2 separate regions of the Homo sapiens genome follow, and region 2 is linked to region 1. Evidence: fine-mapped expression QTL. A gene starts in region 1. The other region holds a variant in brackets. All regions are shown on one strand. Distances are between the middles of the regions.

Region 1 (5,373 bases):
CCCTGGGAAAGCCTGCACCCCAACTCAGCAGCTTGGCTGCTCCCCTCAGGCAATGGCTGCCTGACAGTAAGCCTGATGAAGCAGCAGGGACTCAGGATGGCAGGGGGTCTCTGGTAAATTAGAAACCGATGTGGCAAGCTCAGGTCCTAGCTGTTAACTAGTAACAAGAGCTTTCTGTAGAGAAAAGCACCATGGATTAAACCAGGATGAAAAATGCCACCTCACTCTCTGGAGTAAGAAACCTATCTTATTTACTTATTATTTGAACCCTTAGTAAAGGTTAATATCATCTATAGGAATAAGGCCTGAAGAAATCAGAAGAGAATGAGAAATATTCCCTCTAGCAGGTCTGAAGATGTTACAGAAAATTTGCTTTTCACTGTTCATTTGGTTTACCCATGTTTTTGGTAACTAGCACTGAAGCCCTTAAATCAAGAGGAAAACACATCCTGCGTCCTGATTTCAGAGCTGGGCAAGAGCTGGAGTATGGCTGTCCCTCTGCAAAGGCAGCTGAGGGCATGAGAACCCAGGCAGGCAAACACAGGTGGGCTGGGAGAGGAAAGGAAACCGGCTACCCGGAGAGGGCGGAGACAGGGAGACAGATGGGGTTCCTATGGCCGTGTGTGGGGTGAGGGCCCAGACCTGGCTACAGTCTGAGGTGTCCGCAGGCACATGTAACACGCATGCCAGAGCTCAAACTCAACTACTGGGCTGCAAGCTGGGAACAATTTCATGCTACTTTTCTCCTGAAAAATAAGGCTGCCTGCCAGTGGCCGCAGCCCGTGTCATCGCTCCACAGAGGCTGCACTGCATTCTGAGAGGAGCGCAGGGGCTCTACCACCTTATGATCCAAATTATTCATGTCACCAAGTTGCTTCACTGCCTTCACCTAGAGAAGAAATATTCAGATTAAATCTGGCATCCCATTCCAAGCATCCTTACCGTTAAAAAAGTCTGCATGAACGGCCTTTTCATTGGCTGCCAAGTCCATCAAGAGCCCGGTGCTGCCTCCCGCCTGGGGAATGGAAAGGCAAGGTTATGTCAGGTGCGTTTTCCGAAAGAACAGGTGATAAGTGCATTGCAGGGCCACTACCCCCACAAAAAAAGAAGATGGGTGAGGGGAAACAGGCTCAAGTTGGAGTCAACATTTTAGTTCCAGACACAGGAATGTGTATTGGGGGGAGGGGGAGGAATTCAAAGGAATGATTTTTAAGGTCTCTCAAGGGCTTCTGTTCCTTGATTCCTGTCTGCCTTTAAAAAAGAAACCTACCACTGACCTAAGCACCACTACTTCTCTGTGCCCCTCAAGGAGAGCTTTCCGATCCCTCGCCGGACATCGCCAGAGGCCACAAACATGCGAAATTGAGCCCATCGCCTCCACTCAGGATCCCTTCCCTCTCTCTTCTGGGAATGAAACCACTTCCCCGAGGAAACTGACCTGCTCTGCCTCTGAGGTTCTGGTGCCCCGCTGCTATCATGGACCGTCCACTGCCACAACTCCACGGCAGTGGAAAAACCATGTCACAACCCAAGCTGGGCAATCTGAAGCCCTCAGGATTTTGGGTCCTGTTTAGAGTCAACCGGTGACAGAGGGAGCAGATTCCTCTGACAGCAGCACCCTGGACAGCTGGCCACAGGTCCTGCTGCTGCCCTGGCCCCAGCATTCACAAGGCCGCTTGCTCAGACCTGCCCTGATCCCCACATAGCTGCATGCCCTTGTTCCCTTTCAGACACTCTCAGAAAAGCCAGGACACTCAGTCTCCTCCCCTGGCTTCTCAGCCACCCTCCCTGTCCCCATCAGCACAGTAAGCCACGCGCATTCTACCACTTGAAGCTTGTCCCTACCTCCATCTGCCTCATTCACACCCTCTTCAACTCTCCTGTTCTCCCTGCTCTCATTTTTCTACCCTCTCACCCGTAAATGCTGCCACCCTACAGAGCAAGTCGGAGCCTCTCACTCCCCACTGTAAAGCCCTCCGGTGGCTCCACATCGCCTAGGACTGTGAAGCCTAGGACTGTAAAACAGGACTGAGAAGCCTGGGTTTAATGGAAGTGCTTCGGGAGCGGGGTGCACAGAGCCACCCTCTTTAGCATGGTTCCAGATGGTTTCACGATCTGGGTAGGGAGAGAGTCCCTACCCACTGTCTCCCCTCTCTCTGGCACTGCACGCTCAACCATGTTAAACGACACAACATTCCCTTCCCTTGGTGAGCCAGTCGGCATCCCCCAACCCAGGGCTCTGCTCCTGCCGGGCCTTCATCCCCCACTACCTGGCAAACACCAATGTGTCCCCCAGCATTTGGCCACAGAGTCGACTCCTCAGCTGTACCTTTGCTGAGCCCCCTCAAAGCCCTGAGGGTCCATCCGTCGGTGCGCCTTCGGCTTTCTATGACACCTGGTATTTGCAATCAGCCGCTCTGCCATGCTATTACCTCCACAAGCACAAGGGCTGCCTCTGACCACCTCTGCAGCCCCTAAGCTTTGAGAAAGAGCACATAAGGCCCTGACATGTAGGAGCTGGCCTGCCACTCTGAGCTAGGCTGTGGTGCTCTCCTGCTGACCATAAACCATCTCAGAACGCTCACATCAGACAAGGTCACTCTGTGAACACAATAGAGACCAACAAAACCCCAAGACGACTGTATAATCCTGTATAATTAAAAAGAAGAACGAGGCCACTACGCAAAGCACATAAATGCCAGATGTCTCCTTTTCCGCTCCGACAGGAATGACGGCTGCTCCAGTCTTCCCTCATTCTAGTTAAGATTAAGAGGCCCAATCGGAGAATTATCCTCGCTTCCAAGGCACAGTAAAGCCCACTTTCTTCCCCCAAATCCCCTAACACGAGCTCAAATCCCACACGAGGTTATGGAGACGCACCGCGGGCCCCCATGGGGTGCTGCAGCCATCGAAGAGCAGCAAACGCAACTCCTCTGACCACGGGTGTGTTCCCGGGGGCCGTGGGGGCACCCAGCAGGCACTCAACCCTCAGGCTGCGCCTCCTGGTCCCCCGGGCTAGGGCACACGCTTCCCGCCGCGGTCGGTCGCCGCCTTTCACCAGGTGCTCGGAGAAACCGGGATTTGCTCTCCGCGGGGCAGGGAGCCTGGGAGCCGCGCCCATCGCCCACCCGCCCGGCCTCCCCTCCCCGGGACCCGCGCACCAGGACGCCGCCCTTCCGCTCCCCCTTCCCCGCTCCCCACGCTCGGAGACTCCCGCCGGGCCCGTGCCACCTCGTCCAGGTCCACGTAGGGCCCGGCGCCCTCGGGGAACATCTCGTCCACCGCCGGCTTCATCTCGGGGCCGCGGCGCTCTAGGCTCACTTCCGGCCTCAGAGCCGCTTCCGGCGCGCGCCACATGGCAGATCTAGACGCCGGAGGACCGCGCCTCTGTGGTGCCCGCCCGCTGGGGTGCTCCCGGCCGCCGGCGCGTCCGCGGCCACCGGCGTTTGTCTTTGCGCTGGCGAGGGCGGGCGTCTGCAACGCCTCTGATGGGCGGCCGGGCGGCCACGGGGAGAAAAGGCTGCCAGCAATGGGAGCAGTGCCTGCAGAGCACGCCTCCGACCAGAGGCCGGATCCAGAATAAAGAAGGAGCCTCAGACTCTGCCGCAAAGACGGCCGGGTTCACAGGAGCCCAGGGCTTGACCTTCAGACGTTTGTCTGAAGAAGACACACTCGCGGCCAGTGAGCAGATGAAGAGGTGAAAGCAAACCAGGGCCCCACGGCCGCTGCACCCCTGGGACGCCCAGAGTCAAAAAAACAGCAAAACACGGGTGGAAGGGTGCGCGGCACACGGGGCCCCTCGCACCGCGGCGGGGAGTGAGACGCGGCAGCCGGGGCGGGAGACGGGGGGGGGCAGGTCCCAGAAAATCAAACACGGACACCCACGTGGCCCAGCACTCCCCTTCCGGGCACAAGCCCAGAGGACCAAAAGCCGAGGCTCCAAGGGGCGTCTTTACCCCACGTTCACAGCAGCGTTATTTATAATAAATGAAAAAGGGAAGCGTCCCCCGCTGTCCCTGCCCATCGATGGATACGTGCATAAGCAAATGTGGGCCATGCACACTGTGGAACATTACTCAGCCTTTAAAAGGAAGGGAATGCCGACACCTGCTGCCACGCGCAGGAACATTGAGGACGCTCTGCCGAGGGAAACGGGCCAGTCCTAAGACAAACACCGCATGATTCCACTCAGCCGAGGCCCCTAGAGGAGTCAAAGTCATAGAGACAGAAAGTAGAAGGGGGTTATCAGGGTCTGGGGAAGGGGAAATGGGGAGTTCGTGTTTAGTGGGGACAGATTTTCAGCCTTGACAGATGAAAAGGATCTGTAGAGGCTGCTGGTGATGGCTGCACAGTTCGTGAATGTGCTTAACGTCACTGAAATGTGGTTAAGATGGAAACAATTTGTGAAGTTTTACCGTAATGAAAAAAACAACAAAAAAGAATGTGACAGAAATGCGAGGGAAAGGAGAAGGAAAGGGGTAAGAGGAGGGAGAAGGTTGGAGGAAGAGAGGGAGAGAGGAAGAACAGGGGAGGGAAGGAGAGAGAGCAACAGGTCCTGGAACTAGACTTTGCCAAAGATTCCTTGCTCAGCCAGACTTCGGTGGCCTCCTAACCTCCTCCCAGGCCCATCTGTGCACTGCATTGTCAGGTTCAGTTTTCGCAGAGAGCCCTGCTAAGTTGGTTTAGCCAGAGCCCCCCACCCTGGATATTGGATCGGGTTCCTGGTCCCCCAGCATCCCCAGGATGTCTGATGGCCCAGACCTGTCTTCAGCGAAAGCCCTGCGGGGTCGGCCGAGCCAGCATCCCGTCCCGCACTGTGTTCCTCCCAGTCATTTGCCACCCGCGACCCCACCTGCTCCTCAGCCGCAAACCCCCACTGCCTGTGCTGTTCGGAGCTGAGCCTGGTCTCCCTCCCCCACTGCAAGATCCCGTTGCAGTGGTCCCCACACCCGTCTCCAGGGTTCGGAACAACTTCTGAAAATTTCCAATAATGTTTTCCTTTAACAGGCCTTAGAGGAGTTGGGTTTGGGGGTTAGGCTGTAGAGAAGGGGAGTGGGGGGCGGCATGGATGAGGGTAGTTCCAGGGACAGGAATTGAGCTGAAATGTGAGGGGTGTGTGTGGCCTGAAAAGGGGCCGCCTGGCCTGAGTGGACAGTGTGGGACGCAGGGAGAAGCTGGCAGTGGATATTGGGTGAGCCTCATGCCATGCCAATGTGCATCACCCTGAAGGACCCAAGTGAAAGTCAGTCCGATGGAACAGGGGCTTGGCAGTGACTAAGAAGATTGACCCATTAAGTCAAGGTCTTTACTAGCTAAGGGGTGGAGCTGTGGGTCTCCACGGTCTGCTTGTACACCCTACAGGGATGGGGGGCT
Region 2 (5,373 bases), 95 kb before region 1:
CTGTGCCTTGTAATTGGAAAATTGAGTGCATTTACATTCCATGTTATTATTGATAAGTAGAGACTTACTACTGCCATTTTGTTACTTGTTTTCTAGGTGTTTTGTAACTCCCATTTTCGTTTTTTTTTTTTTTTTAATGTCTTCCTTTGTGGCTAAGTGATTTTCTCTGGTAGTATGTTTAATTTATTGCTTTTTTAATTTTTAGTGAATCTCTTATAAACTTTTGCATTGTGGTTACCATGAAGCTACAAAAATATCTTATAGATATTGGATGTTTTATTATTTTAAAGAGATGAAGACTTATGTCACAAAGAATAGAAACAAACAAAGGAAAAATGAAAACCCTCTACACTAACTCCATCCCCCTCCACATTTTAACTTTATGTTGTTTCAATTTACAGATTTTTATATTGCCTATCTCTTAACAAGTCACTGTGGGTATTACTGTTTTTGATAGAGCTGTCTTTTGGGCCTCATACTCAAGTTATGAATGCATTGCACACCGCAATTACAGTATTATAGTATTCTGGATTTGTCCATGTATTTAATTTTACCAGTGAGGTCTATACCTTCACGTGCTTTCTTTCTGCACAGTAATGTTTTTTTCTTTTGGATTGAAGAACTACCTTTAGCGTTTCTTGTAGGATAGGTCTGATGGTGGCGAATTCTCTCAGCTTTTGTTTGTCTGGTAAAGACTTTATCTCCCCTTTATATTTGAAGGATATCTTTGCTGCATACAGTATTCTTGACTGACCTTTTTTTTTTCTTTTAGCACTTAGAAAATGTTATCCCACTTGCTCCTGACTTGTATGATTTCTGTTGAGAAGTCTGTTGCCAGACAAATTGGAATTCCTTTATAAATTATTTGCTTTTTTTCTCTTGCTACTTTTAGGATCCTCTCTTTGTCCTTGACCTTTGAGAGTTTGATTATTATATGCCTTGGCACAGTCTTATTTGGGTTGATTATGTTTGGTGTTCTTAGACTTTCTTGTACCTAGGTGTTTATCTCTTTCTCTAGTTTTGGGACGTTTTCTGTTATTATTTCTTTGAATAAGTTTTCTATTCCTTGCCCTTGCTCAACTCCTTCTTGAACATCAATAATTCTTAGGTTCAGGTTTTTGAAGTAATTTTCTGTATCTGGTATTGGGTGATCTTCATTCCTTTTTATTCATTGTTTTCTTTTTTCTCCTCTGACTCAGTGTTTTCAAATAACCTGTCTTCAAGCTCACTGATTCTTTCCTCTCCTTAATCCATTCATCTCTTGTGAGGCCCTAATGAATTTTTCAGTTCAGCAAAAGTATTTCTCAGTTCCAAGATTTCTGTTTGTTTGTTTTTTTATTGTTTCAATCTCTTGGTTACATTTCTCTGATACATTTCTGAATTGTTTTTCTGTGTTATCTTGGAGATCACTGAGTTTCCTTAAAACTGCAATTTTGCATTGTTGTTCAGAGAGTTCACATATCACTGTCTTGTTGGGGTCTGTCACTGGATCCTTGCTTTGTCCATTTAAGGAGGTCATGTTTTCTGTTTGCTGTTGTCTCCCATAGATGTGCATCTATAGTTTTTCACTGAAGGGTTAATTATTTATTCCAGTCTTCTCTGTCTGGCTTGTTTGGCTTTTATTAGATTTGTTTGCTTAGAGACTCCTTGTAATTTATCTATTGATTTTCTTTCTTCCCTCCCTGCCACCTCACTATGTTGCTGCTTTCTTTTCAACACTAGATGATTCCTTAAGCCCAGGTTTGCCTCAGCTCTAGTAAACAGTCAGAGTGCCAACCATCCCAAATGAGGGAGGCCCCAGAGGGAATATCCTGGTAGTGTGGGAAGGCTGGCTCACAGTTTGTGCCCAGGGAAGGTGTGGAACAAACCTCCTACAGCATGGTGCTGCTGAACTGCCACACTGATTTGACATCTTCTTTGGCTGAGTTACAGAACAGAGTCTCCAGAGCTGGGGTTGGTAGTCCTACCTTCCCGCTTTGTCTCTGCTGGCCTTAAGGCTGTTTTTCCCTTCAGGTGCTAGCAGTGCTAGCAGTGCTAGCAGCACTTCCTGTGGGTTGAGGCTGGGACAGATCTCCTGCCAGGAAACCTAAGAGAGTGAGGAAGCTGGTTGTCCACCTCAATCTCACTTTTTCCAGCGTAGAAACTGTGAGTCAGGGGGACATTTTCCGTGTCCTTTGTGCTGGGCAGTTTTGGGGAGAGGGATGTCGTGAATATGGAAGTCCAATTCTCTTACTGTCGGCTTGGAGTTTTTTTCACTTTTCTGTGGTTGCACGATCTTTTTCCTCCTCATATTTGAGTTCTTGGGTATTGCCGGTGATACTCTTGGTGCTATGTATTTGTTGTTCATTCTGTATGGGGGCAGGGGCAGGTGGAGAAGCCAGCTTCTATGCCATCATTAAAGAACTGGAATTCCCCCCCATGTGTCTCTTATAAGGATGCTCATCAATGCATTTAGGGCCCACCTGGATAATCCACACTGATCTCCCCATCTCCAGATCCTTAATTTAGTTACATCTGCAAAGACCCTTTTTCCAAATAAAGTTGTATTCACAGGTTCCAGAGATTTGACATAGACCTATATTTTGGGGCCATTTTTCAGCTGACTAGAGCTGATATATTTTTTTTTCCTTAGCATGTATGCCTGAATACCATTCTGAGTATTTTACCTATTTATTTTGTGTATTTCTCTCTCATCTAATAGATTGTAAACTGTATGAGGACTGAGATTTTTGTCGATTTTGTTCATCATTTACCTTGAGTGCCTAGATTAGTGTCTGGCACATAGTAGGTGCTTAGATGAATAAATGAGTAAATGAATGAATGACTCAGTTGGTTGTGACCAGAGAAGGGTATGGACAGAGAAGATGGAGTAATTTAACAGGAGACAAACCATGTCCCAGCCCAGCTGCCCGGGGAGGAAAATCAGCTCTCCACAGCCCTGAGAATGGCACCAGTAGCATCACTCTGAGCCTGTGCCTGGGTCCCTGGGCTGGCTACC[C/T]GGCCTAGAGCCCTTCCTCCAAATAAGGCAGGGACATGGGGTCTGACTCAGCAGGCCAAGTCGGGGTGGAGACCCAGATGATCAAATGCACATGAAGGAGGCAAACCCAAGGTCATGACACCCAGGAGACCCAGGAGGGAGGTCCTGACTGTGGATGGCAGGAAGTCTCAGCGCTCACTCTGTACCAACTGAGAGGGCGCCAGAGACTTAGAGGAGAGCAGTGGACTCTGGAAAGGACATGAGCTGGAGGTGGACAGTCAGTGGACAGTGGTGCTTCTGTGCAACAACGTGGGTGTCCAGCAGCAGCCTAGGGGTTGGCAGATGTGGAAGAGACAAGTGGGTTTTAATGGGGTGGACACAGGCTCTGCAAATGGATCCAAACTCAGTCAGAATGAGTACAGAAGAGGAAAAGCAACTTTTCCATAACTCAGATACAGATACAGGCAGATTTTAGACCTTCATCATTTCCCAGTGTTGGGACGTACAGTGGTGGCTGAAGCACCGCTGTGCAACCTTCCTGCCCAGACAGCTGCTCCAAGCCAACTGGGTTCCCAGGGGTCCGAGTGTCCCTTCCCCTGGCGAGTGAGAGCAGACCTGGGCGCCTGGGAGCCAGCAGGGAACTGTCTGGTCCAGAGGAGGAGTGGGCTTCAGGGCCCTGTGCAGCCTGAGGATGCACGACTGACTACAAAACAGTTTCTATATTAAAACCAGACTCACAAGGCCAATTCTAGAGTGGGCTGAAGCTTACAGTATGAGCTGAAGAAGCTTTTCTTGGTTGTCTCTGGTTCAAAAATGTGCAGAGGACTGAATGGATGCCAGAGTTGATAAAGATAGACTTAGTAAGAGATTATTAGAAAGTACATGTTAGAAACAAGAAGACAGGTGTTGAAGGTGGCCCTGGCAGACAGCAGCAAGACATTGCCCTGCTGTGAGAAGCCCACCAGGCAAGAGCTGTGGCTGAAGAGGCGTAGATGAAGAGACTTGGATGAAGAGGCATGGATGAAGGGCCGTGGGTGAAGAGACGTGGATGAAGAGGCATGGACGAAGGGCCGTGGGTGAAGAGGCATGGACGAAGGGCCGTGGGTGAAGAGGCATGGACGAAGGGCCGTGGGTGAAGAGGCATGGACGAAGGGCCGTGGGTGAAGAGGCATGGAGGAAGGGCCGTGGGTGAAGAGGCATGGACGAAGGGCCGTGGGTGAAGAGGCATGGAGGAAGGGCCGTGGGTGAAGAGGCATGGACGAAGGGCCGTGGGTGAAGAGGCATGGACGAAGGGCCGTGGGTGAAGAGGCATGGACGAAGGGCCGTGGGTGAAGAGGCATGGAGGAAGGGCCGTGGGTGAAGAGGCATGGAGGAAGGGCCGTGGGTGAAGAGGCATGGACGAAGGGCCGTGGGTGAAGAGGCATGGACGAAGGGCCGTGGGTGAAGAGGCATGGACGAAGGGCCGTGGGTGAAGAGGCATGGACGAAGGGCCGTGGGTGAAGAGGCATGGAGGAAGGGCCGTGGGTGAAGAGGCATGGAGGAAGGGCCGTGGGTGAAGAGGCATGGAGGAAGGGCCGTGGGTGAAGAGGCATGGAGGAAGGGCCGTGGGTGAAGAGGCATGGAGGAAGGGCCGTGGGTGAAGAGGCATGGACGAAGGGCCGTGGGTGAAGAGGCATGGACGAAGGGCCGTGGGTGAAGAGGCATGGACGAAGGGCCGTGGGTGAAGAGGCATGGACGAAGGGCCGTGGGTGAAGAGGCATGGATGAAGGACTGTGGGTGAAGAGCCGTGGATGAAGGGACATGGGTGAAGAGCCGTGGGTGAAGGGACATGGGTGAAGAGCCGTGGATGAAGGGCCGTGGGTGAAGAGCCGTGGATGAAGGGCCATGGGTGAAGAGCCGTGGATGAAGGGCCATGGGTGAAGAGCCGTGGATGAGCCGTGGGGGAAGAGCTGTTGAAGAAAAGTTGTGAATGAAAAGCCGTGGATGAAGGGCCGTGGATGAAGAGCTGTGGATGAACAGGCATGCATGTGGCCAAGGCACCACCAGGCTTCACTGGGAGCAAGCCAAACCCAAGCCCGATGCCCTCTCCTGCTCAACCCACTGAGAGGCAGGCTCTAAATTCCTGACCCCAAGTCAGCTTGATCCCTTAAATCAGACCCCACAAAGCCCTTTGCTACCCCATCCTGCCCTCCCATTAAATCCCATGTCTCCTCTGGCCTTGGAAGAACCTCTTCACCTGGATCTGATTTCTACCCATTTGATAGGAATTACCCCTTTGCCTACTGTAAGATCAGGTGCGATCAGTTCCGACTCTCTGGGGGCCTCTGTGGCAGTTACAGCCCAAACCCACTCCCTCAGCCTTCAACAGCCTTCACTCATCTGCACATCCTCCTTCA

Alleles and levels. Alleles are on the strand shown, and positions count from the first base shown. SD is a standard deviation of normalised expression in the study named.
As copies of T replace C in region 2, the expression in sun-exposed skin of the gene that starts at base 3,315 in region 1 goes up (small effect, 0.13 SD a copy in GTEx).

The links. PIP is the estimated chance that this variant, and not a neighbour inherited with it, causes the effect.
Region 2: its variant is the best candidate, but not a certain one, in a credible set for the expression of COPS9 in sun-exposed skin (GTEx, PIP 0.80).

Annotation. Positions count from the first base shown.
Region 1 is chr2:240,132,991-240,138,363 of GRCh38, forward strand. COPS9 (COP9 signalosome subunit 9) reads right to left here and starts at 3,315. Exons shown (of 3, transcript NM_001163424.2): 1 at 3,232-3,315; 2 at 943-1,015. The coding sequence starts at 3,294. RefSeq lists a silencer at 3,127-3,176 and enhancers at 3,617-3,716, 3,727-3,836.
Region 2 is chr2:240,037,979-240,043,351 of GRCh38, forward strand. No RefSeq gene overlaps it. Among named protein-coding and RNA genes, the nearest start is that of OR6B2, 10 kb to the left of the region's middle. The variant C/T (reference allele first, on the strand shown) is at 2,999.